Linked DNA regions of Homo sapiens. The protein of the gene in region 3 interacts with the protein of the main gene of each other region in a biochemical or structural test. Each region holds a gene or a part of one and is shown on either strand. Other genes may lie near its edges.

Region 1 (7,787 bases), on a different chromosome or scaffold from region 3:
GAAATGAAGTTTGACAATGGTACAATTCAGTTTTGAATTTTTGCTCTTACTTTCTATATCCTAACCTTTTCCAGCTTATTTCTTGTTAATTGTTTTTGGAAAGTATGCAATGCTCTTTTAAGGGAAAAAAAATCTTCTAATGCACTTATTTACCTTCATTTATATGTGTTTGTTTCTGAAATGAAGAATCAAGCTTTGGTCATTCCGGAAGTCGTGTAGCATGCTCCAATTTGAAGTGACTGAGATCTTTTGTGACTTACAGAGGAGAAGGAAATGTTTTAAAAATTGGCTTATGCCAGTCTCCTTACTCTGAAATTCTCAATTTTCTTGTATTACAGGATAAATATAAATATCATCTCACCAAATTGTACCAGCATTGTCCTAAACATTTAAATTTTCCTTTATTTTTGGCCTTTAAAATTAGAAAATTTTCTCCAGTTGCTGCACTTAGCTTTTTAATTTTGTTTTCTTTTCACTTACCAGACTACTGGTATGATCTCTTTCACTGCAGTATGATTGCTGCTATGGTCACTTTTAGAGGAGATTGTGGGAAGGTTAGGATTTGGAGGAAACATGACAAAAAAGGGAAGAAAAAAAAAAACCTTCATTTGACCACATCTGGCTGCTTGTATATTTAACCAGTTCTAGAATTAGAAAACCTTTCTGTACATTTTCTTCTATTTTTCTCACTTTTTTCCTTACATAATGAAATTAAAACTTTTGGAGCCTACAGTTGACATTTTTCAGAAAATTGAGTTATCAAGGCAGTAATTATTTCACGGGGAGATAAAACTCTCATAGCCCTAACTGTCAAATAGGGCCCTTTTCAGATTTTAATTACAAAATAAAATTAGTCTGCTCTTCCTCAGAATGGTTTGTGAGTGGTTAAACAGAGCTTTCCCCCAATACTGGTGGTCGTCAAACTCTGCTAATTAGCAATGCTGAGAAATTCCAGTTAACAAGGACATTCTCCAAGACTCTGCAGGTTCCCTGCCGTTTGCCTTCATTTCCATAAGAAGATTAAGAGAGGAGGGGAACACACTCAAATGCAGATGCAGAAAAGAAGCGTTTTTTAACAAGCATCATAATAGTAAGATGCTTGGCTAGTTCTCACCTAATTACTGCAAGTTAAACCTCTATTTGACACTAAGAAGAAAAAATAAGTCTACAGTCCCCTGTCTCCACAAAATTGTTAGTTGGTTTCAGATATAATACTTGAGGAGTGCTGAGGAGACTTTAGGAGAGAAAAATCAATGTGCAAGATTTTGAAATAAAATTGAGTTACACTTAACAGTTAAGGCCTTTTGGCTAGGGCCTATAATAGAACAAAATAAAATCAGAATATTCCAGGAGTCATGCATTTTTGTTACTAACTACTAATCTTGCTCTAAAAGTATGTAGCTTTTTGTTGCCCGTGGAAGGGAAGTGTTACACTCCCTTTAGATTAAGCACTTTCAATTTTCGTAAATTGTGCCAATGGCAACATTTTAGATTCTCAGAGGATGAAGCATCCTGTTCCAAGTCTTTTTTGATTGTCTAGTAGTCAATGGTATATTGTTGTTAGTACTGTAGCTGTCTATTACAAACCTAAAACAGTGTTGCTTCTGTCATCTATTGGAATCGTTATAGTTATTATATTTAGGGATCAGTGATGGTGCTGGATTGAAATAGAGTGGGCAGTGATCTGATTTTTTAAAATGCATATGTTCTAAAAAATCTAATGAGAAAATGTTCCTGCTATCACCATCTTCTTTAATCTTATTTTCATAGCACATTATTATGCATAATCGCCAGCCACAGTTAGTTTATTGTCTCGATAAGTACAGCAGGCTTAATTAAAATAAAGCTGTAAATAAATGCAACCAATGATAACACAATTGTAACGTAATTCCATAGCTTATTAATGTGATAAAAGCAATTAATAAAAGACCTAGCCAACCCCTTTAACCTCTTAAATACATTATTATAGAGTTCATGCACAAACACATGCATCTGAGAATGTGTAAAAGTTGTTATATATCCTCCCAAGGAAAAAAATTGTGCCTTGAGAGAAAGGCAACGAGATTTAAAAGATTTGTGTCTATAACCGTCTGTTATTAGTATTTATTTTAACAAATATACACCACCCTTATCCACACCAATTCCTTGGTTGTTTCTTCAAACAATTATCCACAAGCTTTTTAAAGTTTTTAGAATAATGCTATTAAGCAGACCGATGCATACACAATCATAAAGTGAATTCTTGGTCTGCCCTTTGTGGCGTCTGGACAATCATAATTCATTCACATGTTGAATCTCATAATTTGTACCTATTTTTTCCCATGGTCTAACCTCCCACTTACCTCGAGGTTGTATGTATATTTCTAAGTTAGGCAAATTAAATCTGATTCTTATGATTTGGTTCCGCAGCTTATAAGATATGTTAACTTTTCTTTTGTTTAGATTATGTATAATTAGTCTGATCTTCCATCCCCCTCTTTTTTTTTTTTTTACTTTAATTATTTTCAAATACCTTCTTTTAAAGGTAAAAGCAATAGTCTTGGAAAAGCGAATCTACCAGCAGGGGGCGCACCAGCCACATCCCTGAAACCAGCCGCGCTGAAAAGCCGGTGGCCGCCTTCTCTTCCCCAGATCTTCTCAACCTTTTCTCTTTCCTAATCTCCAGGTCCGTGTTTACCTTAATATTACACCTGGATTAAACAGAAAACAGTGCTGTATTTTGAAGAGCGCCGAATATGTATGCATTTTGAGAAACCCAATCTCACCCTTTCCGGGTTCCCAAGAACTAAAACAAGCCATAACTTGAGAGAAAAAGGAGAACCTTCGGGGGGCAGGAAGGTTGATTGGAAATAACTTAAGGAAAGTCTGCAGAATTCTTTTTTTTACAACTTTTCTGAGTTTCCAGTGGGTATATTTAGTGTGAGTTTGACAGTAACAGGCTAGGGAGGGCAGAGATTGGAGAAATTGGGGGTCGGGGGAGTGATTATGGGAAGAAGGTTAGTAAGGAACAAAACAATGCACCGTTTTGTAAAGATAATAAATGGAACGTGGCTGGTAGATACTATTCAGTACATTTTCTTAGGGTGAGTAAGGGTAGACCAGGGGAGGAGGGGGCGGAGAGAGTGTTACAGAAGAAAGAAAATAAGTAACCCTGATGGTTTAAGCCCTTTATAAAAAAGAAATGGCATCAGGTTTTTTTTTCTTTATTCCCCCCCACCCCACCCTTTGTAGTCAAGTGCATTTTAGCCACAAAGATCCCAACAAGAGAGTGGAAGGAAACTTAGACGAGGCTTTGTTTGACTCCGTGTAGCGACAACAAGAGAAACAAAACTACCTATTTGTAACGGACGTGCTGCCATTGCCCTCCGCATTGAGCGCCTACCTATTGAAATCTTTACGTCGGGACAATGGGAGAGCGGCTAAAATTACCCTCTTGGGTCCTGGGCGGGCAAGATTCCTGAGCCCCTACCCCCGCCCCCATCTCATCCTCCTCTAACCCGGGCCTTGCTGGGCTCCCCCTTCCCCAGTCCCGGCCGCCTTCTCCCAGTGTGCGCTGCCTGCACCTGTGCCTGGAGAGCATCGACCCCGCCTCCCAGGCCTTGAGCCCCTTTGCGGCGCAGCCCCAGCCTTGCGCGGCCTGGGCTTTGCGGCCACCACAATGGAAATCTACGGGGAAAATGCCAGGGCTGGTTCTGCTGGAGTCCTGGGAACTCTGCGTGGGAGGGAGTTTGTGACTGCGGCCCAAAAGCCACCTCCATACAGTGCCGTGGGATGCCAGGAAGTTGAAATCACCCTCCCCCATCGCCTGCACTTTTGAGCGCCCTTCCGTCTGTGTCTTTCCCCAGCCCCCATTTGAAAGCCGCACGACCGAAACCCTTCTTACGGGGAGGCATGGGATGGGAATGGGGAGTGGGGGCAGACAGTAGAAGCATCCCCTTTGCTACGGTTGAATGAAGACAGTCTAGTGGGAGATGTGGCTGGGGCTAAGAGGAAGAGCTGCAGTTTCCTGGGCCAAAGAGCTGAGTTGGACAGGGAGATGGCAGCTTACCAAGGCCTGCTGGTTCTCAGCTCTAGAGTCTGCCTTATGGTCCGAGCAGGATTTATTTTTAAGAACAGAGCAAGTTACGTGGAAGCAAGGAAGGTTTTGAGGACAGAGGTTTGGGTCTCCTAACTTCTAGTCGGGACTGTGAGAAGGGCGTGAGAGAGTGTTGGCACCTGTAAGGTAAGAGAGGAGAGCGGAAGAGCGCAGTACGGGAGCGGCACCAGAGGGGCTGGAGTTGGGGGGGAGTGCTGTGGATGAGCGGGAGAACAATGACACACCAACTCCTGCACTGGCTGTTTCCAGAAATACGAGTTGGACAGCCGCCCTGAGCCACCCACTGTGCCCTGCCCCACCCCCGCACCTTAGCTGCTTCCCGCGTCCCATCCTCATTTAAGTACCCTGCACCAAAAAGTAAATCAATATTAAGTTTAAAGAAAAAAAAACCCACGTAGTCTTAGTGCTGTTTACCCACTTCCTTCGAAAAGGCGTGTGGTGTGACCTGTTGCTGCGAGAGGGGATACAAAGGTTTCTCAGTGGCTGGCAGGCTGGCTCTGGGAGCCTCCTCCCCCTCCTCGCCTGCCCCCTCCTCCCCCGGCCTCCCCCGCGCGGCCGGCGGCGCGGGAGGCCCCGCCCCCTTTCATGCAAAACCCGGCAGCGAGGCTGGGCTCGAGTGGAGGAGCCGCCGCGCGCTGATTGGTCGCTAGAAACCCATTTATTCCCTGACAGCCCCCGTCACATGGATGGTTGTCTATTAACTTGTTCAAAAAAGTATCAGGAGTTGTCAAGGCAGAGAAGAGAGTGTTTGCAAAAGGGGGAAAGTAGTTTGCTGCCTCTTTAAGACTAGGACTGAGAGAAAGAAGAGGAGAGAGAAAGAAAGGGAGAGAAGTTTGAGCCCCAGGCTTAAGCCTTTCCAAAAAATAATAATAACAATCATCGGCGGCGGCAGGATCGGCCAGAGGAGGAGGGAAGCGCTTTTTTTGATCCTGATTCCAGTTTGCCTCTCTCTTTTTTTCCCCCAAATTATTCTTCGCCTGATTTTCCTCGCGGAGCCCTGCGCTCCCGACACCCCCGCCCGCCTCCCCTCCTCCTCTCCCCCCGCCCGCGGGCCCCCCAAAGTCCCGGCCGGGCCGAGGGTCGGCGGCCGCCGGCGGGCCGGGCCCGCGCACAGCGCCCGCATGTACAACATGATGGAGACGGAGCTGAAGCCGCCGGGCCCGCAGCAAACTTCGGGGGGCGGCGGCGGCAACTCCACCGCGGCGGCGGCCGGCGGCAACCAGAAAAACAGCCCGGACCGCGTCAAGCGGCCCATGAATGCCTTCATGGTGTGGTCCCGCGGGCAGCGGCGCAAGATGGCCCAGGAGAACCCCAAGATGCACAACTCGGAGATCAGCAAGCGCCTGGGCGCCGAGTGGAAACTTTTGTCGGAGACGGAGAAGCGGCCGTTCATCGACGAGGCTAAGCGGCTGCGAGCGCTGCACATGAAGGAGCACCCGGATTATAAATACCGGCCCCGGCGGAAAACCAAGACGCTCATGAAGAAGGATAAGTACACGCTGCCCGGCGGGCTGCTGGCCCCCGGCGGCAATAGCATGGCGAGCGGGGTCGGGGTGGGCGCCGGCCTGGGCGCGGGCGTGAACCAGCGCATGGACAGTTACGCGCACATGAACGGCTGGAGCAACGGCAGCTACAGCATGATGCAGGACCAGCTGGGCTACCCGCAGCACCCGGGCCTCAATGCGCACGGCGCAGCGCAGATGCAGCCCATGCACCGCTACGACGTGAGCGCCCTGCAGTACAACTCCATGACCAGCTCGCAGACCTACATGAACGGCTCGCCCACCTACAGCATGTCCTACTCGCAGCAGGGCACCCCTGGCATGGCTCTTGGCTCCATGGGTTCGGTGGTCAAGTCCGAGGCCAGCTCCAGCCCCCCTGTGGTTACCTCTTCCTCCCACTCCAGGGCGCCCTGCCAGGCCGGGGACCTCCGGGACATGATCAGCATGTATCTCCCCGGCGCCGAGGTGCCGGAACCCGCCGCCCCCAGCAGACTTCACATGTCCCAGCACTACCAGAGCGGCCCGGTGCCCGGCACGGCCATTAACGGCACACTGCCCCTCTCACACATGTGAGGGCCGGACAGCGAACTGGAGGGGGGAGAAATTTTCAAAGAAAAACGAGGGAAATGGGAGGGGTGCAAAAGAGGAGAGTAAGAAACAGCATGGAGAAAACCCGGTACGCTCAAAAAGAAAAAGGAAAAAAAAAAATCCCATCACCCACAGCAAATGACAGCTGCAAAAGAGAACACCAATCCCATCCACACTCACGCAAAAACCGCGATGCCGACAAGAAAACTTTTATGAGAGAGATCCTGGACTTCTTTTTGGGGGACTATTTTTGTACAGAGAAAACCTGGGGAGGGTGGGGAGGGCGGGGGAATGGACCTTGTATAGATCTGGAGGAAAGAAAGCTACGAAAAACTTTTTAAAAGTTCTAGTGGTACGGTAGGAGCTTTGCAGGAAGTTTGCAAAAGTCTTTACCAATAATATTTAGAGCTAGTCTCCAAGCGACGAAAAAAATGTTTTAATATTTGCAAGCAACTTTTGTACAGTATTTATCGAGATAAACATGGCAATCAAAATGTCCATTGTTTATAAGCTGAGAATTTGCCAATATTTTTCAAGGAGAGGCTTCTTGCTGAATTTTGATTCTGCAGCTGAAATTTAGGACAGTTGCAAACGTGAAAAGAAGAAAATTATTCAAATTTGGACATTTTAATTGTTTAAAAATTGTACAAAAGGAAAAAATTAGAATAAGTACTGGCGAACCATCTCTGTGGTCTTGTTTAAAAAGGGCAAAAGTTTTAGACTGTACTAAATTTTATAACTTACTGTTAAAAGCAAAAATGGCCATGCAGGTTGACACCGTTGGTAATTTATAATAGCTTTTGTTCGATCCCAACTTTCCATTTTGTTCAGATAAAAAAAACCATGAAATTACTGTGTTTGAAATATTTTCTTATGGTTTGTAATATTTCTGTAAATTTATTGTGATATTTTAAGGTTTTCCCCCCTTTATTTTCCGTAGTTGTATTTTAAAAGATTCGGCTCTGTATTATTTGAATCAGTCTGCCGAGAATCCATGTATATATTTGAACTAATATCATCCTTATAACAGGTACATTTTCAACTTAAGTTTTTACTCCATTATGCACAGTTTGAGATAAATAAATTTTTGAAATATGGACACTGAAATTATTCTTGAGTCTTTCATTTATTTGGATAACACTGTGATTATACATAACTTTTCGGGGAATTATAATACTGTGCTCAGCCAAGAAAGCAAAATACCAAAAACCTTGGTATTACTAGTCCAGCATCATGTGCTAATGTTAACTGCAAAAAAGAAACGGCTGGATGATTAATAAGTACTGGAAAAATTGAAATTTCTGTCATTTCTAAAATAGAAACTAGAGACATATATTGTAAATCCGCCCCCTCCTTTTCTAAGCAGCATGAATAAGCATGATGGGGACCTATACTTAAAACTGATTTATGCCACTTGTTGCCAGAAAGGATTCAATTCTGAAATTTTTCATGTAGTTTAGCAGATGGGATATTGAGCCAAATCAGAACCAGGTTGGCTGGTTTTGTTTTCATTTTCTTCACAGCACAATGGCCCTTTGAAACCTGGCTATAGAGAAAAATGATGCTTCTTGTATCAGAATAATTGCAAACTAGACATGCAA
Region 2 (7,849 bases), on a different chromosome or scaffold from region 3:
AATTGAGCACGGTCAGCATGTTTTGGTTCTCATGAATACCTTGTTTTTGCACTCTGGTCTGTGAAGGAATTTTAAAGCTTTTCCTAGGATTTGATTTGAAGGACAATTGAATGGATCCCTCAACTAAATATTAGTGATCCAAGATAGAACTCATGCACCTAAACTTGCCTTCCAGATATTGATCTTGTAATTTATTCTTCTAATTTCAGTGCCATGGAGAATGACTCTTATTTCTGAAATTCCTTCAGCACACAGATATTTTCATACAAATTGGCCTTCCTGCCAATGCCTTGCCTTGACACCTTGAGTTGGGGGTGCCACTAAGGCCTATCCTATAACCTTCACTTAATTAATCGTAATTATTATTACACATACTAATTAAAGTCAGTCAGTTTCCTAAAGTGTAGGACATGTAGACTGGTGGTACATGAGGTAATGTTATAAGGTAGATGTAACATTAAAACAACAGTGAAGCACTTAGCACAATATTCTTTTTTCACTACCTTTTAATCTTTCCGATTATGCTAAACTGAAAAATCTTAGGTTGATGCTCACATGTCCAACCCTTACCAATATCCCTTTTTTAACAAATTGAGAGCACAGCTTGGGCTCAGACCCTTGACAGACAACCTAACTAATGTTTTGTTTTCATTGTATTTGCTTTAACAGTCTTCTTTATGTCAAGTGGAAACGTTTTTCACTTACCAAAGCAACATAATGTTGCTTTAAAATAAATTTGTCTTAAAAAGGTTAAAGAAAACATTAAGCAAATACTAGTATTTGCGGTTCTTGAATTTGGCAATAAAACTGATAAAGTTTGGGAAACATTAATTCATATGAAAGGGGCATGTGATGTTCTGTCACATGATACAGGTTGGGAGTCATGTGCAATGGAGGTGAGTTATCTCTTTAGCAGTATAACTGCACTTTGGATTGTTGCCAGACACTCATCTGAGTCCTAGTTTTGGGGAACAAAAGAAGCTTTATGAGCATATTAGCCAGTACTTGTACTGTGATAGGGTTAGTTTCTTGAAATGGAGTCAGATGTGGCAGAAAATTTACCCTAAAGTAAATTAGAAACTCACCTTGTAATCCAGAGGCAAGGCAAAGATTAGATGCTATGATCTAGAAATCAGGATTGATCTAGCAATGGAGTCTGAAGCAAGTTAGGGTGGTTCCATGTTGGTTCTGGTCAACTCCCTGGGTAGGACTAAATAAATTATGATGTGAATGGATTGTAAACTTTTCTTCAAGTTCTTTTTTTTTTTCTTTTTGAGACAGAGTCTTGCTCTGTCACCCAGGCTGGAATGCAGTGGCACAATCTTGGCTCACTGCAACCTCCGCCTTCTGGTTCAAGTAATTCTCATGTATTCTCGGGTTCAGCCTCCCGAGTAGCTGAGATTACAGGCACGTGCCACCACGCCCAGCTAATTTTTGTATTTTTAGTAGAGACGGGGGTTTTGCCATGTTGGCCAGGCTGGTCTCGAACTACTAACCTCAGGTGATCTGCCCACGTGGGCCTCCCAAAGCCCTGGGATTACAGGCATGAGCCACCGTGCCCAGCCTTTTCTTCAGGTTCTTAAATAAAACATTGGAAAGAAATTATTATGCAATGGAAGAGAGTTTGGCCCAGGTGTAGAATACAGGAGACAGAAACAAGGTCCTTGTTGACTGTTCTATTCTCAAGTGTATAAATGTAAATTAGTATCTCAGGTTTAAATTAGGGATAAAGAGAACATAGATATATCAAAGTATTTATTAATATCTTATGTACATTTTTAACAAAGAGATTATAATAGCAGAAACAAATCTAAGCTGTGCATGTCAGCATTTCAAATATGTTTATAATTTAAATTAAGTTGATCATAATTAGCAAGCAAATTAATGGTAAGGAATGTCAGTAGTGTGATTAAACTTTGAAAAAGATATACACAGATCTCATTCTGACAATCTTGTGCATGTAATAAATAAAACCCCCAGCCAGGTACAGTGGCTCAAGCCTGTAATCCCAACACTTTAAGAAGCCAAGGCAGAGGATCACTTGAGCCCAGGAGTTTGAGACCAGCCTGGACAACATAGGTAGACCCCATCTTTACAAAACTTAAAAAATAAATTAGCTAAGCCTGGTGGTGCACGCGCCTGTAGTCTCAGCTACTTGGGAGGCTGAGATCATGCCTCTGCACTGCAGCCTGAGCGATAGAGTGAGACCCTGTCTCAGAAACAAAAACCTCCAATATGATTGATTTGGTGCAGCCAAAAATATATTTTTATATATACATATATGCAAATTAGTAAGTATAGTTTTATTTGTACTTCTATTTTAAGGCTTAATTTGCTTTAAAGGAGCTAAAATGTATCCTCACATCCCAATCTGTTTAGAAGCCATTAGGAAGTGAAAATATTTGCATTTTTTCCATTTGTTCTGCTTAGACAAATATGTAATAAAAGCATGTGTGTGTGTGTGTGTGTCTTTTTTTTTTTTTTTTGGTAAAGATAGGGTCTAGCTCTGTCGCTCAGGTTGTAGTGCAGAGAGCTCACTGCAGCCTCGAACTCCTGGGCAGAGTTCGCCTCAGCCTCTCAAAGTGATAGGATTACAGGTGTGAGCCACTGTGCTGGGACTGTGTGTGTCAATAAAAAATTTTGCTTGTTCTAGAATTAACCCAAGGTCTTCAGTACCATTAATTCACTAACAACAATTTAAAAAAAATCCTCCCTAAAGACAAAGTAGGTGGCAGTTTCAGAGTACTTTCAATATTAACATAGAGCATCTTGACCCTTAGAGCCACGAAAGAAGAAAAACTAAATTCAGTGAAATTTGCACATGATAGCAGCCCTCCTTGGTTGTTTTTTCCCTGACAGCTTCTGGGAACTGAATGAACTTAATTATGTTTTATTAATAAACTATTATTAATTTTGCATCCTGAAATAAGTGCTTGAATCAGGAATAGCATACTTCCCACTAAATTCCTTTTGCCTGAATGAAATCTTCAGATTCCCATCTATACTGCAAGGGCACTTTAAGAGCTACCACATAGGCCATAACGTTCTTGGAAAACAGGATATGCTGTCAGTTGCCTAGGTAGAGACAGGAGCTGACAAGGCAATCCTCAAGTTCCTTTCTTTTATTCTGAGAGCTGTATTCTGTGGATAGGGATTTTGTATTTTAGTGCTAACAATGTTTTTCAGTACCTAACACCATGAGTATTCAAAGGTCTGATGTTATCTTTAATGTATGTAATGAACATACAATGGTATATCTTATGAATATTACATTCATTTTCTATTCCTACAACGTTTTCAGAGGAAATATTTTTACCCTGACCTGGATTCTATCGCTATCCTAATAACTGTGGTTCAGAAAATTGTCTCACAGGCAGACAGTTTCCTAATCACGTTTTACTCAATTATTTTATTTCTCAATATGATAGGCTGTGAAGTAGTCCACTGGAAAAGGCATCATGCTGAGAGTAAGAAAAGCTTATTTGTTCACTGCTCTATCTCCAGCACCTAGAACAATGCCTGACCCAGAACAGGTGCATAGTATTTGCTGAGTGAATTCTAATCCTACTTCTGGGTAAAATTAAGTAAATTAATTAGTTCTTGAGGGACTCTGTCTAGATGACCCCTAAACTTCCATGGTAAGGTTTTGTGGTTTTTATCTTGGCTTTTCTAAATGCTCTAAAAATAGTAGTGGATGGTAACAATGCAGTGTTCAGTAAAATCAATTGGTGGAGATTGTAGATAGATGGCTCATAAGACATCAGTATTACAAATCCTATGTGTGTGCGCGTGTGGTCATACAAGGCAAAGTTAAAGTCTTTTTTTTATGACGATGATAAATTAGTCTTGTTTGGGCGACTGAACTCAAGAGGTGGTTCAAATAAATGTCATATTTTTCATTGTATCTTCAGTGCCTAGTACAGTTACTGGCTCATAGTAGGTATTCAATAAATAGTGGTTGAATTAATTGCCTTCCTTAACGTTCCGTTTAAATGCTAGACGCAGCTAGGTCTTTACCCCTCCTTAGAAAGAGATGGAGCTGTAACCAGAAATCCCTTAAAAGGTAAGGACCAGTAATCAGGCTGAGCTAAGCTCATGGGTAGTACGAGACAGGCTTAAAGCACTGAAGGAAGAAAGAAGAGAACCCAAGCGTGAGAGAAAGCAAAACAAAACAAGTAAAGAGAGGAAGAAAAACATTTCTAAAGTGGGGGTTGGCAGGAAGCCACAGCAATTACAGCAGGTCAACCCTTGTCAATAGGTGGTCACCTCAAGAACTTACCATTAAAACCCTCGGCCACACAGACCCCACTTTTAAAAGGTTATTAATTCTGACATGCCCAAGTTCATCTGAGTTCCTTAGAAAGATCAACCAGCAGCACCTACTTCACGACCTATCCTCCATTCCATTCAAATAACGCGGCCAATAGGAAAATCCTCCGCCCTGAGCCAACGACTCGGCGTAGCTGAGACAGCACGGGAGGCAGATCTGCCCTGTAGAGCCTTGCGGTTCCACTGCTGGCCTCCGGATTCCCGGGAGCCCCCAGCCCGACAGGACAACCTTCCTTCCCCGCTTCCTCCTTTCCAGGTCTGTCCCAGCCCCCGCTGCCTGGGCCACACCCGCTTCCCTCTGGTGGCCCAGCCACCACCGCCGCAGTTCGCGGGAGCGCTCTTCCTGGGGCGGGCACAGGCCCAGGGCGCATGCGCACTGGTCGAAGGGCGCCTCCCAGTCCGGATCTCGCGAAGTTACGTTAGATTGGCCGCCGGTGACGGGTGGCCGTGCTGGGGGCGGGAGGGCTTCTGTGGTAGGAAGGGAGGTCCGCTCGGCCGGGTGCGCCGCCCCAGTGCTCTGTGGGATACTGGAAGTCTCGAGCGTCGGCTCCGGGTTCCCAGCCCTCCTCTGGCCCGCACTCATAGAAACATTCACACACCCCCTGCCTCCCCTCTCTTCCCTCTCCGCCTCCCCCTTCCCCCCCTCGCGATAAGAAGACCCGGCGGCAGGAGAGGGGATGAAGATGGCGGACGCGAAGCAGAAGCGGAACGAGCAGCTGAAACGCTGGATCGGCTCCGAGACGGACCTCGAGCCTCCGGTGGTGAAGCGCCAGAAGACCAAGGTGAAGTTCGACGATGGCGCCGTCTTCCTGGCTGCTTGCTCCAGCGGCGACACGGACGAGGTCCTCAAGCTGCTGCACCGCGGCGCCGACATCAATTACGCCAATGTGGACGGACTCACTGCCCTGCACCAGGTCTGTGCGCCCCGCCGCCGGCTCTCCTGACCGTGAGGGTTCTCGTCGGCCTCCTGCTCGGGCCTGCCCTCAGTTCTCCACCTCTTGAGGCTGGGGGCGGCGGGAGACTCCCTGCTGCGGGGTGAGGGGGCGGTTTCCCCAGAGGGCGGGAGGGAGAGCTGGTGGAAGGGAGGGCGCTGGGCTTGAGGCCCCCCTTCAGAACAGTTGCTGGTGGAGTTGGGAACCGGGTGATTTCCGGGGCATAGGGGAAAAGGAACTGTGGTCGTTTGGGGCCCCAGGGCCATTCGTGGATAAGTCTGGGATTTGGGGTCGAGACAAGGAGGGGTGTAGTGGGGTTGTGCCTGGGCCCCGGTGTCAGTGGTATATTCGGAGGGGTGGATGCTGAAGGAAGAAAACTAACAAGGGGCATTACGGACGGTTAGGCAGATGAACATCTTTGACTTGTAGGTGGGCATTGGATTTGTTGCACTTTTTAGGACTTGATTACAAATGATGATAATAATAGTAATCTAGAGCCCTAAGCCGAGTGCCCTGAACGAACGATTTCCTGTTTTCTCATTTATTACTCTTGGTCACTGGGGAGGGGAAAACAGGGTGTAATTAGCTGATCTGCACCGGCTGAAAGGAAGGGGATGGAAGTGGGTAGAGTAAGGAAGCCCTCTAAAGGGCTTGCCCACCTCCGGACCGGAACGTGTTGAGTCTGATACTCGAAGTTTGCCGCAGTGTCAGAGATCCTTGAGCCCCAGGTCCTCGGGTGTGCACTGGTGTTAGAAAGAGAAGAATAAATAGGGGACACTCTTTTCAAAGCCGGTTACCAAGCTCTGGTTTTTCTTTTGGGGTTGGGAAAAAAGAAAGCTGGTCACAAACTTTTCTCAAAATGGATGCTTTGTGCATATTAAAGTTTTATAGTAGTCTGATTGGGATCTCTCAATGTTAGCCAAATAAGGAGAAACTATTGGCAATCCAGAGATAATGTTGCCTTGCCTTTAACAGGCCAAAAGCAACACAACCACGTAGAGTTATGCATAAAAAGCAATTTTTAAGTGACGGTAATAGGTGACAAAACATAGGCTTTTTCTATTTTCTTAGCGGGCAACTTGGAATAACTGTAATAGAAAATGACTTTGCAGCGATAGCTTCCCCTTAACAATGAAAAGACTTGTAAGCTATCTCAAAGTTGCCTTGGTTGTGTGTGGAAGATGCATAGCCTTATTTTGAATAATGTTGTAGTAAAAACTTGTTTGGGAGGTTGAAACTCAAGGCTTTATATTTCATGAATATTAACTTGATGCCTTTTAAAAAAAAGGTGTGTAGTGACATTTTTCCTTGTCCTGCTTACTGTTTAAGGGAGTGATGACCATTTTAAATTTTGTGTAATGGAATTCTCTTATCAGACTTGGAGTATAGCCTTTGTTTACAAAGTTGACTGGATATATTGAAATGATTGACACATTGCAGGACAAATATGGAATTAAAAATGTGGCACCCAGTAAAAATATAGCAGGGTGTCTAGCGCTTTCTCAATTTCATTAATTTAGATTCTCTAATGCATAGCAAACTTTTTATTTGGGTGAAGTTTATTTAAGGCATATCATAACTCGTAAAATTTTAAAACCATGGTGTTGAGAATGAAGGAAACTTTTGGCATTAAAAATGATAATGTAATTATATAAGATGAATCTTCAAATTTCTTTCAAGTGTACTTTACACGTTTTAGTGTGAAACAGATTTTGAAAGACGATTATTACTGTAGGAGGTCAGGATAATTGGATAATGGTTCGCATCAATATGTTTTATTCAAATTGTCAAATAGAAATTTAAAGTTACTATTGTTGTGGAGGAACCCAGTTGTATTGGCTTAGAGGAAGACGAAAAGTTTTGATATTTACATTATTGTGATACTGGTTTAGGGAGGAAGAGAAAATACATTTAACTGCCTTCTTAAGATCTTTTTTTCTCCTCTCAATATTCACACGTTACAAGAATTGTCAGACTTACCAATGTCTTCCTGATTAACTGAATTCAGTGGTCAGTTTGGTGTTGTGTAGATATATCTTTATTGGGTATTTTGTTTTAGTTGACAAACAGAAGTTTCTAAATTTACTCCATTTGCGTAATATCTTTCTGTCACTTTTTGTCACTGTGAGTGTGGGTTTGACCCGATAATCTCCAACCGCCTCCCCTTTTCCATAACATTTTTCCATATCTGCAAATGCCTTAAATCGGTGAAGCCAAAGTCTTTAAAATATCAAGCATTAAAAATTTGTGTTATGTTTTCTTCACTCTCATTTCTTATTTATCAACTCTTGTACTTTTTTCCCATTGTTACTATGAAAACAGGGAGTTCACTTTGGGCAAATTTAGGACAACAGTTAGTGAAAGACAATAAATAAAATTAAAAACCACACACACACAAGAAAATTTTAAGCCTTTAAGAAATCTCTTGAACTTAGCTTGTTTTCCATACTTAATTGTAAAAACTAAAATCACTGATTTAATAGTCCTTGAATAGTTCTTTAAAACTTTAACCTCTCAAAAGATCGTAGAATACCTAAAATGTATAACGGGGTTAATTGTTGATTGTTTTTTGAATATTCATTTACTTT
Region 3 (7,030 bases):
TGGTTCTCTGTCAGGGTATGATTGTAACTCTGGGAAAGTTCTGAACTCAGAGTGGACAATTCCCTGAGGTGAGGGGAGTGGCGGAGGCTGTGTCGAGAGAGTGTTCTGTGTACTGTGTTGGCTGTGCTCTTGTGGGAAGAAGGCAGCAAGCCCTGGGCCTCAGAGGACCTCAGAGCTCCACCTGAGCTCTGGTGTGGCTTTTGGAAAACACTTTGAGACACACTGGTTCAGTGAAGAGTGATGTTTAGTTTTCCAGTGTTATTCCCCTGGGCATCTGGAAACAGAAATTTATCACAGCATCTATTTCTTTGTCTACCCATAGATACAAAGATGAATATGATGTGGTCTCTAATATGATTTCAAATAAATATATCTATACAGATGAATTGTGATGGTTGAGAGGAAGTAAAAATTAGTTCCAGCTTAGGGAAGTCAAAGGGGAAAGATTTTCCAGAAGAGGTGCCATAGAGCTGAGTCAGGTTGAGAGGGGAACTTTGTGAGTGAAGACACGGAGGCATGGAATTCTGCGGGTGCACCCAGAGAACAGTCATTTGATTTTGCTGCAACATGGAGCTTACAAGGAGAAAAGTGGAGGGGAAGACAGGGAAAGGAGGCTGGGTAGCAGGCTGAGAGCATGGACTGTGTGCTGGAAGCCATGGAAGCCGTGGGGGCTCTTTAGAAAAGGGAATGACAGGATCAAGGCTCCACTCCGGGAAGAGGAACAGGCAGTGGCCAGCAGGACAGTCAGAGGGGCTGACACAGCAGATGAGGTACCTTGAAGTCTCTTTGCAGTGGTCCAGATGCACAGTTATGATGGCAGGAAAAACAGAAGGGCCTGGAAATGTGTAGGAGACATGGAGGAAGAATGATCAAAAAGGGGAAATATCAGAACAAGGGGCCAGAATGAAAATAAGCAGCTCAGTGTTCCACTGCCACAACCCCTTCAAAATATTAAGAATATTTTTTATTAACACTCCCCCTAATATCAGATTCTACTTGTCTCTGCTAAGAGTGCTCATGCCCTGTATCTAGGGAAAATGCATATGAAGTGTATTTGTAGCACCCTTTCTGTGTGGGCCACACATTAAAATCATGACCCTCACAATTAATAGATGAACCCTTGCCAACAATTACCCTTAAAAAAAATTATCCAGGTAACAAACTTTCATATGTACCCCCGGATCTAAAATAAAAGTTGAAATAATTTTTTAAAAACCTAAAAAATTAAAAAATTTTAAAAAGATCAAAACATCAAGTTATGTTTTTAAGAGTTGGTGATTGAATGCATCACCAGGAGGGCATGTTCTTTGCATTAAACAGAATAAGCTTGCCTTTTATTATTGTTGTTTTTTGTTTTTCAATTTATTTATTTATTTAATGAGATGGGGTCTCACTGTATTGCCCAGACTGGTCTCCTGGGCTCAAGAGATCCACCTTGGCTTCCCAAAGTGCTGGGATTACAGGCATGAGCCACCGCGCCCGGCCTATTAATTGTTGTTTTTTAAAGCAATGTTCTAGTGTACAAAACCAACAGTGTGTGCGTAGGGTCTCTGGTTCTAAGGGAAATACTCACACGCCACTCTCAGATCTCTTGTGAGTAAGCCTGAGACATTAAGCAGCTGGGTGTCTGATCCAGAGGGAATTTACTTTGCTGAGATTGAGATGTACATTGCTGCTTAGAATATAGGCCTGGCTCTTATCAGATTCAGGAAGAAGCTCCCTCAGAAGTAACTAGAGGGGAAAATTGTAACTTTCTATCTGTTCAATAGATAATGACCATAGAATAAAGTGAAAAAGTAGACTTGTGAACTGATACTTTTTTCCTTTCTCTAACTTCTGTAAATATTTAAAATCATGCTACAGACAGATACACAGAACATTAGCTCCGGCAACCTTAAAAACACAGAGCAGTCATTCAAGTTAATTTTCCCTGTTGCTTGGGCCTGGTATTCACCCTCTGTTCAGTGGGAACTCGCCTGGAAGGCTGTTGGCTGACTTGGCGCATTTTACAAATTGACCTCATGCAGAGCAAGGAGGACTAGTGTTTCCCTTCAAGTTAGATAACACTTGGAAGAGATAGGACTTTGCAACCGGGACATGCTGTTGGAAACCTGGTGGTTCTGTGTGAATGATCTTAACCACAAAGCCTTCTTCCACTTCCCTGCCAGGGACCTGGGGGTTCCTACCTTTTTAGAGGTACCTTCTTACCATCACCAAGGAAGAGTGTGTTCAACTAGTTTGCCAGTGTCTAGAATGGGAATTAAAGGATTTGGAGAAGGGGCTTTCAGTATTCATCAGCACACTCAGTGTGGCAATGTCTCTTGGGCAAGTCTCATAAAGCATTGGTGTCTTCATCTGTAAGATGAGAATATGGGAGACTGTTTTGAGGCTTACATTTGATAACAGGAAAGCATATAACCCAATGCCGATCATAGTAGATTCATACACTTTTTTTCTCCTCTGTTTATCAGTACCCCTGTGCATTAAATTGACTTACTGACATGACAAAATATTACATGATCTTATTGTCCAAATATTAATGATCTTATTGGCATTTGAAAAAGTTATGTCAGATTCTGTTCTAGCACTAATGTTGAAAGAAGATGTAAGAGCACTGCAACCTAGTCTCTTCTCTTTCTCATGGAAAGTCTCTGTTATTGTTTTGGTTGTGGCTGCTGTTTTAGACATAAAGTTCTACTGCTAGGAAAACTAATCCGGGATATTAAATATTCAGAGTGGAAGTCTCGAATGATCACAACCCTTAATCTCTAGTTCCTTTAATTGATCACACCCTAGGGATGTAAAGAAAACAAAACAAGCCAGGAAGAGGCTCCTGCTGTCGTCGAATAGATTTCAGAATTCTCTCACAACCAGCAATCTAAAAGCCTTCAGAATGATAGGGAGTGGTCACATGTCCAAGCACCTCCTTAATGTGCAAGGTCACCAGAGTAATGGCCATCATTTGGTAGCTCTCCCCTGACCTTGTCTCTCCCAAGAGATTAAGATGATGATAGGGCTCCTCTTCATTTGCCTGTTGAAAGGCACTGAGGCCAGGTGTGGTGGTTCTTGCCTGTAATCCCAGCACCCAAAGTGGGTGGACCACTTGAGCTCAGGAGTTTGAGACCAGCCTGGGCAACACAGTGAGACCCTATCTCTATAAAAAAAAATTTTTAATTAGCCGTTTTGGAGGCTGAGGTGGGTAGATTGCCTGAGGTCAGAAGTTCGAGACCAGCCTGGCCAATATAGTGAAACCTCATCTCTACTAAAAATACAAAAAAATAAGCTGGGCTTGGTGGCAGGTGCCTGTAATCCCAGCTACTAGGGAGGCTGAGGCAGGACAATTGCTTGCACCCGGGAGGCGGAGGTTGCAGTGAGCCAAGATCGCACCATTGCACTCCAGTCTGGACAAAAAGAGTAAAACTCTGTCTCAAAAAAAAATTTTTTTTTTTAAATTAGCCAGTTGTGGTGATGTCTACCTATAGTCCCAGCTACATTGGAGGCTGAGGCAGAAGGATCACTTGAGCCTACAAGTTGAGGTTACAGTGAACTATGGTCTCATCACTGCACTCCAGCCTGAGTAACAGGGTGAGACCCTGTCTCTAAAAAATAAAGGAAGGAGGAAGAGAAAGAGGGAAGGAGGGAGTGAGGTAAGAAAGGAAGAAAAGGAGAGAAGGAGGGAGGGAGGCAAAAAGGGAGGAAGGAAGGAAGGAATAATTCTTCATGGAGTGGAGTTGACATTTTTGTTGTCATCTCAACTGGGATCAGTACTATCCTCCAAGGGCTTACAGTATGTTATATGACACTTTCAACTTTCCCTAATATCTAAATTCCATTGCTGAGGGTGCACCTTCAGTGTTTTATTCAGAAATAGCACAGGGCTGAAGGAAGGTGGAAATTAATTTATATTGGACATTTTTTTCTTAGTGTTCAGATTTATTGTAATTCTCTCAATCTAAAGTGGAATAACACATTTTATCAAACATAAGCTTTTAAAACTCTGAAATATGTGAACTGTTTTCTATGGTGAAAGCATTTTCAACAAGTTAATAAATGCTCTAGTATGAGGCTAAACTGATTATTTGGATATTAATACCTAAATCAAAAGTAGGACACTGAATTTATATGCCTAAATTTAACTTGATCGCAACAACATTTCACTAAAAAAAGCTCTTAGCAATACACTGAGTGGCTTTTTTTAATGAAAAGAAAAAAGCAAATTTAATTTATTTCAATGAGAGAAATGGCATCAGATATTTAGAAAATAATTGTCCAAGTGATTTCATATGACTCAAATGTCATTGAATTTATGTCATGTACAATTAGTTTTTGAGCGAGAAGAAAGCAATTATGGCCTAGTTCCCTTCTGACCATTAATTTCCTGGGCCTTTCCTCTTTTGTGTTAAGAGGAAGGGATCCATATTGATTATGATTTATTTAAGTAGATGTGTCTTATTGTAAGATGTTCTAGGTAACCCATTGTATACAGAGTCAGATGTAGCAATAAAACACTGTAGTTGTTTGCAGCTATTTTATGTTTATGTAATTAATGATACAAATAAAGAGCATATTTATTCTTTTTATTGTTGTTGTTGAGATGGAGTTTCATTCTTGTTGCCCACGCTGGAGTGCAGTGGCACAATTTTGGCTCACTGCAACCTCTGCTTCCTGGGTTCAAGCGATTCTCCTGCCTCAGCCTCCTGAGTAGCTGGGATTACAGACGTCCGCCACCATGCCTGGCTAATTTTTTGTATTTTTAGTAAAGACGGGGTTTCACTGTGTTGGCCAGGCTGGTCTCAAACTCTGGACCTAGGGTGATCCACCCACCTCAGCCTCCCAAAGTGCTGGGATTATAGGCGTGAGCCACCATGCCCGGCCGCATATTTATTCTTTATAAGAGTGTGTACTTACCATCTTTTCCAAGGGCTAATATTCTTTTATCATGTTAGAATAAATTATTTGAGGAGACTAAAGCTTTCACTGTGGTAGTATGGTTTGTGTTGCCTTTTATGTCTGTGAGCCATCTGGAAGCTACATTTCAATGTTTAATGTCCCTGCATTAGACACAGTGTTTAATGTTTTCATACCTTTTCTCTCCATGACCCAGGTTATTACCCCAAGAAAAAGCCAGTAGAATAACTACTGCCTTCATTTTCACCCACCTCTGCAAAATCAGCTCACCAGAATGATTGGGAAGACACCAATAAGGTGATTCCTGGGTTTTGTAAAACATGTAGATAGTAATAAAAAGCATAAACATTGACTGTAAATGTCAGTATTAAACTATACCAATCTTTGACCTAGGAATAACCAGTGACTTAAAAGTCCATGTAATAACTTCTGCTGATGTTCACAATCATTGCTTAAATGACCATGTGCATACTCTGGCTCCATTTAAAACACAAGCCCTCTGAGACACAGTGGTGGACGGTATAGGATAAGGTTATTACTAAACATTCAAAGCTGAAAGATTTTGTAAAGTAAACCAGTAGGTTTAAGGTTAAGCTTAAGTTTAAGGTGAGAAGGACTCTGGGTTTCTGTGTTTGTACAATGAGCTATATAAATCTTAGGGCAGTTTTAAAGATATGACACTGTTCCTTGTGTGAATATAACAATAACAGTGAGATTTTCAGACTGGCTAGCAGTCCTCCACATCATATTATAGAATGATGTATAAAATCATATTGCATACTTAATGTTCTAGAATTAGATAATTTATTCCAAAGACTGTGTATGTGGCAATTGACTATAAAACAGTGGAATCTCAACCACACTTCAGTTAAGCATGAGAGATTGGAGGCATCAATTCCAAATATGAGGACTCTCGGGAGAGTACTTGGTAAATTGTGACATGCCCTGCAGATAATATTACTGATAATGACTCTCAGTTCCAGGTAAAAAGCAAGCTTATTTAAAGTTCATATTCTGGAATGTGTCTAAGTCTGTTCTGGACCTATCAGTTCACAAAGTGTACATAACAATCAATTTGGTACTGCTGGTGCCGATGAGGTGAGAAACTTTTGCACGCTGACTACCCTTTCTTTCCAGGGAGGGGACCCTTTGGCAGCTGGAGGGGAGTTGGGTGGGGGACTTGTCTGGCAGCATCTGAATGCTTAGACGTCAGATGGGAGGAGCACTGAAGATGTTAAGGTTTGCCTTGTGGTTCCCTTTCTCCAGGGCACCTGGACGATGACGGATTACCGCACGGGTTCTGCACAGTCACCTACTCCTCCACAGACAGATTTGAGGGGAACTTTGTTCACGGAGAAAAGAACGGACGGGGGAAGTTCTTCTTCTTTGATGGCAGGTAGCACTCACAGTTTTATTTTGTTCTTTGGGGGTACCGAATTATTTTATGTTAAGGACTAATACAAACGAAAGAATTCAAGTGGAAGTTTTTCTACAATTTATTCAATGGGTAAAATTAACCCCTACCTGTAGGCACTGCTTTGGTGACTGGGGAAGTCACCCTGTGGTTATGGGACAGCCAGCCTAAGGCTTAGCTCTTGTCATCACTGTCTCCCAGAGTGTGCTTGGCCAAAAGATACCAGATTTGGGGGCCCCCATCTTGCATAAGTTGGTTACATGGTCACCCAATTCTTTGATGGATTTCACTTGATCATTCCGGTAGCGCATCTCCCTGAAGTCACACAAGTGGGGATCGTTTTTGTCAGTGGCCAGTTTGCACAGTTCCAGTAAAGTCAGATTCACACTTTTTTCCAAGGGTCACACACACTCTATTGCGTTCAGCACACTCTCCCAGATGTCACAATCTGGCATCTTAGTACCCCGAAGCAAGATTCTGCCACCTTGTTGGTTCTTCTGCTTCATCGGTTTCTCAGCTTGTTGCCTCTCCTCATGAGATTGATGAAAAAATGCTTGGCAAAGTTCTTCAAAGCCACATCATTGCAGTCCCAGTAATAAGACATAAACAGGTACACACAGGAGGGCAACTCTCTAGACTTCAATTTTTTAAATGCCTGTCTTTGGGATAGTTGGTCTTTTTGTGTGATAATTTAATACTAATGTCAGA
Region 4 (7,000 bases), on a different chromosome or scaffold from region 3:
GGTACATACTAAAATTTATTAAGTGGCGACTGGCAGTTTAACTAATTGACATTCTCTTGTGTTAGGTTAATACAGGGGTTGGCGTACTATGGCCTCAGTCCAAATGTGGCCCACTCCATGTTTTTGTATAGGCTGTGAGCTAAGCATTAAGCATTAATTTATTACTTAAATCAACAAATAAAGTTTATGTGGTGTACAACATGATGTTTTGATGTGTGTACATTATGGAATGGCTAACTCAAGCTAATATTCATTACTTCACATACTTTTTTTTGGTGGTGAGAACATTTAAAATGTACTCTTAATAATTTTCAGGTATACAATATTTGTTTTTGTTTTTGTTTTTGTTTTGAGACGAAGTCTCGCTCTTGTCCCCAGGCTGGAGTGCAGTGGCGCTATCTTGGCTCACTGCAACCTCCGCCTCCCAGGTACAAGCGATTCTCCTGCCTCAGCCTCCCAAGTAGCTGGGATTACAGGCGCCTGTCTCCACGCCCGGCTAGTTATTGTATTTTTAGTAAAGACAGGGTTTCACCATGTTGGCCAGGCTGGTCTCAAACTCCTGACCTCAGGTGATCCGCCTGCCTCAGCCTCCCAAAGTGCTGGGATTACAGGCGTGAGCCACCGCGCCCGGCTACAATATGTTCTTAATTATAGTCAGCAATAGATCTCCTGAACTTATTCTTCCCAGCGTCTTCCCAATCCCACCTCCACCCCCTGCTAATAATTAATTTTAAATGACTGGGGAAAAAATTGAAAGAACTGTTTCATGACACTTGAACATTATATAAAATTTTCATGTCAGTGTTCATAAATACAAACTTTTATTAGAACATAGCCATACTATTTATATATTGAAATACAGTTGAATTTGTCATATGACCAATTTATTAGTATTGATTAAGATGTTGAGCAGTTTATTCAAGTGTGGTTTTGTGGAATGAAAGAGACAGGAGGGATTATGAGGACTCTCCTTAGCAGGATTGATGCATTTCACTTTTTTTGACAGGAAGGAAAGTTTAGGTTCTATTTTCTCAGCAACTCTACTTAACTGCCTCCATCTGAACTATATATAGGAGGGGGTGGATATCAGCAAAGATTAACATCAGTAAATTTTGATGAATTCTCTAAAAATTCTGATTTTTAAAGAGGGAATTTTGGCTGGGCACAGTGGCTCACACCTGTAATCCTAAGCACTTTGGGAGGCCAAGGCAGGTGGATCACCTGAGGTCTGGAGTTTGAGACCAGCCTGGCCAACATGGTGAAACCCTGTCTCTACTAAAAACAAATTAGCTGAATGTGGTGGCGCGCACCTGTAGTCCCAGCTCCTTGGGAGGCTGAGGTGGGAGAATTGCCTAAACCCAGGAGAGGTGGAGGTTGCAGTGAGCCGAGATTGTGCCATTGCACTCCATCCTGGGTGACAGAGCGAGACTCTCAAAAAAAAAGGTGGGTGTGAATTTTGTTATGTTGTGCGGGCTGGAGTGTAGTGCCCATCCATTGGCACGATCATAGAGTACTACAGCTCCCTAACTCCCAGACTCAAGTGATTCTCCCTCCTCTGTCTCCCCAGTAGCAGGAACTACAGGCCTGTGCCACCATGCCCAGCTTTCTTAGTCTTGAGGGACTGCATTTACACCTATGCCTTTTACTCTAGGGTCTTTTATTCATATTGCTAGAAATTTGGAGAAGAAAGAAAGGCATAATCTCTGCAGAAAAGCCATTATTTCTGCAGATAGTTCTTTTTTTTTTTGAGATGGAGTCTTTCTTTGTCACCCAGGCTGGAGTGCAGTGGTGTGATCTAGGCTCACTACAAGCTCCACCTCCTGGGTTCACGCCATTCTCCTGCCTTAGCCTCCCGAGTAGTGGGACTACAGGCACCCGCCACCATGCCCAGCTAATTTTTTTTTGTATTTTTTAGTAGAGACGGGGTTTCACCATCTTAGCCAGGATGGTCTCGATCTTCTGACCTTGTGATCCGCCGACCTCGGCCACCCAAAGTGCTGGGATTACAGGCATGAGCCACCACATCCGGCCAATTTCTGCGGATAGTTCTAAGCTTTAGTTTTGACCACGTTGGTTGCCTATGGCCAATTCCTGGATTATTTGCATGTTTCCAGACACAGCTATGTGAAAGCAGGGTTTGTTTTAATAGTGTTTTGAGCCTTTGATTCCAGTTCTGCTTCCACTCTTGGTCTATAAGGATCCCTATGGCAGCAACAGAATGGCCCAGCCCTCATGATTGGTTGCTTAAAAAGGCTTTAGGATATTCAAACTGGGTGGCCTGTCTTGTTTGGAATAGGACTAAGCATGTCACACTTTCACCATGGAAGAGTTAATCCATATTCTATCTGTAAGTTGTATCTCCAGTCATTGGTTTTCAACAAGTGGTCCTATCTTAGGAGGAGTGGTATATTAGAACAGTCCTTCCAGAGTAATTTTTTTCATTATTTCAGATTTTTTAGTTTTTTTTGTTTGTTTTTTTTTTTTTTTTTTTTAAAGGCTCTCACTCTGTCACCCAGGCTGGAGAGCAGTGATACGATCATAGCTCACTGGAACCTCTACCTCCCTGGGCTCAGGTGATCCTCCCACCTCAGCCTTCTGAGTTTCTGGGACTACAGGCATGAACCGTGAGGCCCAGCTAATTTTTGTGATTTTTGTGTTTTTTGTAGAGTCAGGGTTTCTCCATGTTGCCCAGGCTGGTCTCGTACTCCTGGTCTCAAGTAACCTGCCCGCCTCGGCCTTCCAAAGTGCTGGGATTAGAGGTGTGAGCCACCACACCTGTACTACTACTTTTAGTTTGAACACTATATTTAAATCTAATAATTCAGACATGGCCCATTTCATACTTGACAGAAAGTATGAGTCAAAGACTCAAATCATTCAGATTCTCACATATGTAAAACGTACGCTTGGCCGGGTGCAGTGGCTCACGCCTGTAATCCCAGCACTTTGTGAGACCAAGGTGGGCGGATCACCTGAGGTCAGGAGTTCAAGACCAGCCTGACCAACATGGAGAAACCCCGTCTCTACTAAAAATACAAAATTAGCTGGGGTGGTGGCACATGCCTGTAATCCCAGCTATTCAGGAAGCTGAGGCAGGAGAATCACTTGAACCCGGGAGGTGGAGGTTGTGGTGAGCTGAGATCGCGCCATTGCACTCCAGCCTGGGCAAAAAGAGCGAAACTCTGTCTCAAAAAAAAAAAAAAAAGCAGGCTTATAAAATAAAACAAAAATGTCCCTTATGATTTGTCTTAAAGGTAGTTGAATTAATAAGAGCTAAATCTAGTGTCCCATACATCTTTGTGTTTCTTACTCTACCCTTTAGAAAGGGTGGGGGTGGACGTGGATAAGGCACACAGTTAATTCAGGGACGGTGGAGTCTTGGTACTTGCTCTTTTTCCCTGACCTTGCTTTGGAGTTATTTTATTTTTTAAATTCTGCATTTGGCATGCTATTATCACTTGCTTACTATTATAGGTCCTATTTTATCTGTTGCCTAGCATATTCTCATAGTGCCTAAAATACTCTAAAAGCTATTTCCAGAGGGAGCTTTAATGAGACATACAATGCTTAATCTCTCAAATGTAAATGTACTAGAACAAAGCATTCTGGGGAAGAAAACAGTGGTTGATTTAACTGAACTCACTTTTCCAAAACAGTGGCTTTTGATTTTCTGTAAACATTGACTTTATTAAGCTTTTCCCTTGCTACTATATGCACTCTCTATTTCTTAAATTGCAAAGAGTTATTCATGAAATTTGTGATAAATATTTGAATCTAAGGCAACGTTTTTGGATTCTTTATACGAGGTTTTTAGCAGCATGTGTACATGTATGTGATAGCTGTTAACGGAATTCACTTAAGTTTTACTTAGAAGCCTGGGTAGTAGAACCTAGAAGTTGCAGTGGGAATTTTTTTTTAATTTGAAAGATTAAATAGGTAAAAAGTCATCTTTAATCTCTATTAAACTTTTTTGTATAATGTCAGAAGTGAAAGTTCCCCACATCTGCTTACAGCCTGTTTGTATCCTTCCTGACTTGATTGATTAAATGGACATCTCTATATACATATGCATATAATTTCAATTTTTGCTTAGTAACAAAAACAAAAGTTACACATACTGGTGACTAATTTGCTTTTTTCACGTATGTCATGAACCATTTTCCAGGGCAGTTCATCTAGATCTCCCTCAATTCTTTTTAATGGCTACATATTCCACTATTATGGATGTACCATATTTATACAACCGGTTCCCTATTGATGGACATATGGTTGTGTCTAGTTTTTTGCTAGCATTGTGATAGATTAGAGCCTGTAATGAATGGTAAGGAAGTAAGTAGATGATAGCACTACTACTTTGAAGGAAAAAGTAGAGAATAAACTTCCTTTGCCATAGTCACTTACTAAATGGAATTTAATAAAAACACTGTCAAAAGTTGGGAGGACCAAAATTGATACTTTTTCTCTGATCTTTTTGCCATGTGTATATCTGAATTCTTTGTTTTTAAAGAAGAAACAGCATTGAAGCATTATTTGGGGGGAAAAACACACACACAAAATCCAGCAACTCAGCATTCATGAGCAACTCTATACTATACCAGTATGTGCCTGTGCAGTGGAAGGAAAACAATTTTGGTAAGGATTAAAACTTTAGCTTTAAACTTCCAGCAGGTTGATATTCTAATGAATGATAAATCAAAAAAAAATTTTAAATATTCTTGTATTGACAGTGCTTTTTTTTTTAAATCACCCTACCTTGATATCTGTAATTTTAGTTTAAACTTTCCCATTTTTCTTTAAAGAAAAAAATCTGAATTTGCAGCCAACAAAAATTAGATATCCTAAGGTTGTATTACTTCTGACTTTTATTAAAATATCAACATTTCTTAGAGATGTTTATGGGCCGACTTTGTCTTTTTCTTCAAGGGGCCAAGTTCACTAATTGCTGAGTTTTATGCATATGACAGCAACCGTCCTTTTGTAGGTGTGTGTCGCATCCATCTAGATACTTTAAAATGCTCATCTATTTCATTTTTAAAATTATGTGTGTGGGATTATCAGTATTTTTTTGTTAAACATATGACATCTGTAGTTTATTTCACTAATGTAAATTTTTTCTACCATTTGCTTGATACAGGAAATATATCCTGGACAATTCCAGCCATCTCTCTGTCACAAATTCATAGCCTTGTCAGATAAGGAAGGAAAACTACTTCGCAACTATACCCAGAACATAGACACGCTGGAACAGGTTGCGGGAATCCAAAGGATAATTCAGTGTCATGGTTAGTAAACTTCAGAGTGGTTTTCTGTAATTTATTTTAGTTTTATAGGAAGATATTTCCTATAAAGCTGACTGCCATCGAGAAGTGGAGATAAAGCATTATTTAATCATGTTATCTCATTTATCGATAACCTCAGAAAAGTAGAAAACAAAAATAATAAAAACAGAAGTATTGGCCTTGACAGTTAATTATAGAAAACCTCAGATATTAATTTGCTTTTGATTTCAAAAGATGCTGCAGTTGCATGCATTCAATTATTTTAAATAATCTTTTCTGGCTGAGTGCAGTGGCTCACGCCTGTAATCCTAGCACTTTGGGAAGCCGAGGCGGGCAGATCCCATGAAGCCAAGAGTTCGAGAACAGCTTGGCCAACATGGTGAAATCCCAACTCTACTAGAAATACTAAAATTAGCCGGGCATGGTGGCAGGCGCCTGTAATCCCAGCTACTCAGGAGGCTGAGGCACGAGAATCACTTGAACCTGGGAGTTGGAGGTTGCAGCGAGCCAAGATTGCACCATTGCGCTCCAGCCTGGGAGACAGTGAGACTCTGTCAAAAAAAAAAAAAAAAAAGAAAAAGAAATTCTGAATACAAGAGTAGTATTAGCTGTTAATGAAGAAATGTGACATCTTTAGTTTATGAAACTAAAAGAACTGGATAGTTGAGATGTACAGGATTCAGAGATTCAGAAATGTTTAAAACAAGTATCAACAGGCCATTAGGTATCTAAAGTGTTTCTAAGAACTGCCGAGCTAAGGTAATAGAGTTGGAACTGTCCAACTCTGCAGGATTTTAGCCCTGGAGGAGTGAGCTGTTACAGTTTTGTTGAAAAGAGTAGCTTTAGAAGGCATCATTATATTAGTGTCTCAGAGATTGAGAATCATATTCATTCTATGTATAAATATATAAATTCTTCATCCCCTAGATTCTCCTGTAGTATATCACAAAATCTGCAGTGTGTTCTGAGGTTTAAAATCAAAGTTAAAAACAAAAACAAAAATCCTTAAACCCTCTTAACATTTGTGATGTTAAACTTTATAACGTTTGTGGTGTGTTCAAGAAACAGAAATACTTCTTTAATAAAGCATATATATGTTGTTTGTTTTTAGGTTCCTTTGCAACAGCATCTTGCCTGATTTGTAAATACAAAGTTGACTGTGAAGCTGTACGAGGAGATATTTTTAATCAGGTAATTTGTTGCCCATATTTTAGGAATTGTTCATGTCTCTGAAGTATTTCTTCTTTTGCCTCAAAATCCTTTTTTACCCCTTTAAAGTATATATGGTACAGAAAGATTCAGGAAGAAAATAGTTAGCATTTGGGAATTTTGGTAAAATACACGAGAACCTTTCAATACCTTATATAGAAAACAGCCCTATAAAGGCTCTTCAAATTATGAAATTGGCTTCTTAGTATCTAAGCCGAACATAAAATGTCAGATCATAAGCAAGTTGTTGTTGTAGTAGTTTTTCTCCTTCCTCTCCCTTTTTGTGCCTGTCAGATTTGGACCTTAAATTAGTTATGGTAATCTAAAATTATTTCATACATGTTCATTGCCAAAAAATATAGGAAAATTTGGCAGAAAATAAAAATTATCCAGAAATATGTCCTGTGTGCTTAGCAATATATGGAGGTAATCATGTCATTACGAAAGAGGAAGAATAGTATATTAAAATGGAGTCATTGGTCGGGTGCAGTGGCTCATGCTTGTAATCCCAG

Evidence for each region.
Region 1: of the proteins of SETD7 (region 3) and SOX2, one has a biochemical effect on the other in vitro, tested with the Homo sapiens proteins (one study listed by BioGRID).
Region 2: of the proteins of SETD7 (region 3) and PPP1R12A, one has a biochemical effect on the other in vitro, tested with the Homo sapiens proteins (one study listed by BioGRID).
Region 4: the proteins of SETD7 (region 3) and SIRT1 form a complex in vitro, tested with the Homo sapiens proteins (one study listed by BioGRID and IntAct).

What each region holds. Positions count from the first base shown.
Region 1 is NC_000003.12:181,707,144-181,714,930, forward strand, and holds SOX2 (transcription factor SOX-2), read left to right. Parts: upstream 1-4,781; 5' UTR 4,782-5,217; coding exon 5,218-6,171; 3' UTR 6,172-7,293; downstream 7,294-7,787. UniProt on the Homo sapiens protein: Transcription factor that forms a trimeric complex with OCT4 on DNA and controls the expression of a number of genes involved in embryonic development such as YES1, FGF4, UTF1 and ZFP206. Binds to the proximal enhancer region of NANOG.
Region 2 is NC_000012.12:79,932,089-79,939,937, reverse strand, and holds the start of PPP1R12A (protein phosphatase 1 regulatory subunit 12A), read left to right. Parts: upstream 1-4,840; 5' UTR 4,841-5,006; coding exon 5,007-5,243; intron 5,244-7,849. UniProt on the Homo sapiens protein: Key regulator of protein phosphatase 1C (PPP1C). Mediates binding to myosin. As part of the PPP1C complex, involved in dephosphorylation of PLK1. Capable of inhibiting HIF1AN-dependent suppression of HIF1A activity.
Region 3 is NC_000004.12:139,546,194-139,553,223, reverse strand, and holds part of SETD7 (histone-lysine N-methyltransferase SETD7), read left to right. Parts: intron 1-5,104; exon of another isoform or gene 5,105-5,205; intron 5,206-6,174; coding exon 6,175-6,304; intron 6,305-7,030. UniProt on the Homo sapiens protein: Histone methyltransferase that specifically monomethylates 'Lys-4' of histone H3. H3 'Lys-4' methylation represents a specific tag for epigenetic transcriptional activation.
Region 4 is NC_000010.11:67,901,656-67,908,655, forward strand, and holds part of SIRT1 (NAD-dependent protein deacetylase sirtuin-1), read left to right. Parts: intron 1-4,507; exon of another isoform or gene 4,508-4,599; coding exon of another isoform or gene 4,600-4,632; intron 4,633-5,134; coding exon 5,135-5,282; intron 5,283-6,390; coding exon 6,391-6,470; intron 6,471-7,000. UniProt on the Homo sapiens protein: NAD-dependent protein deacetylase that links transcriptional regulation directly to intracellular energetics and participates in the coordination of several separated cellular functions such as cell cycle, response to DNA damage, metabolism, apoptosis and autophagy.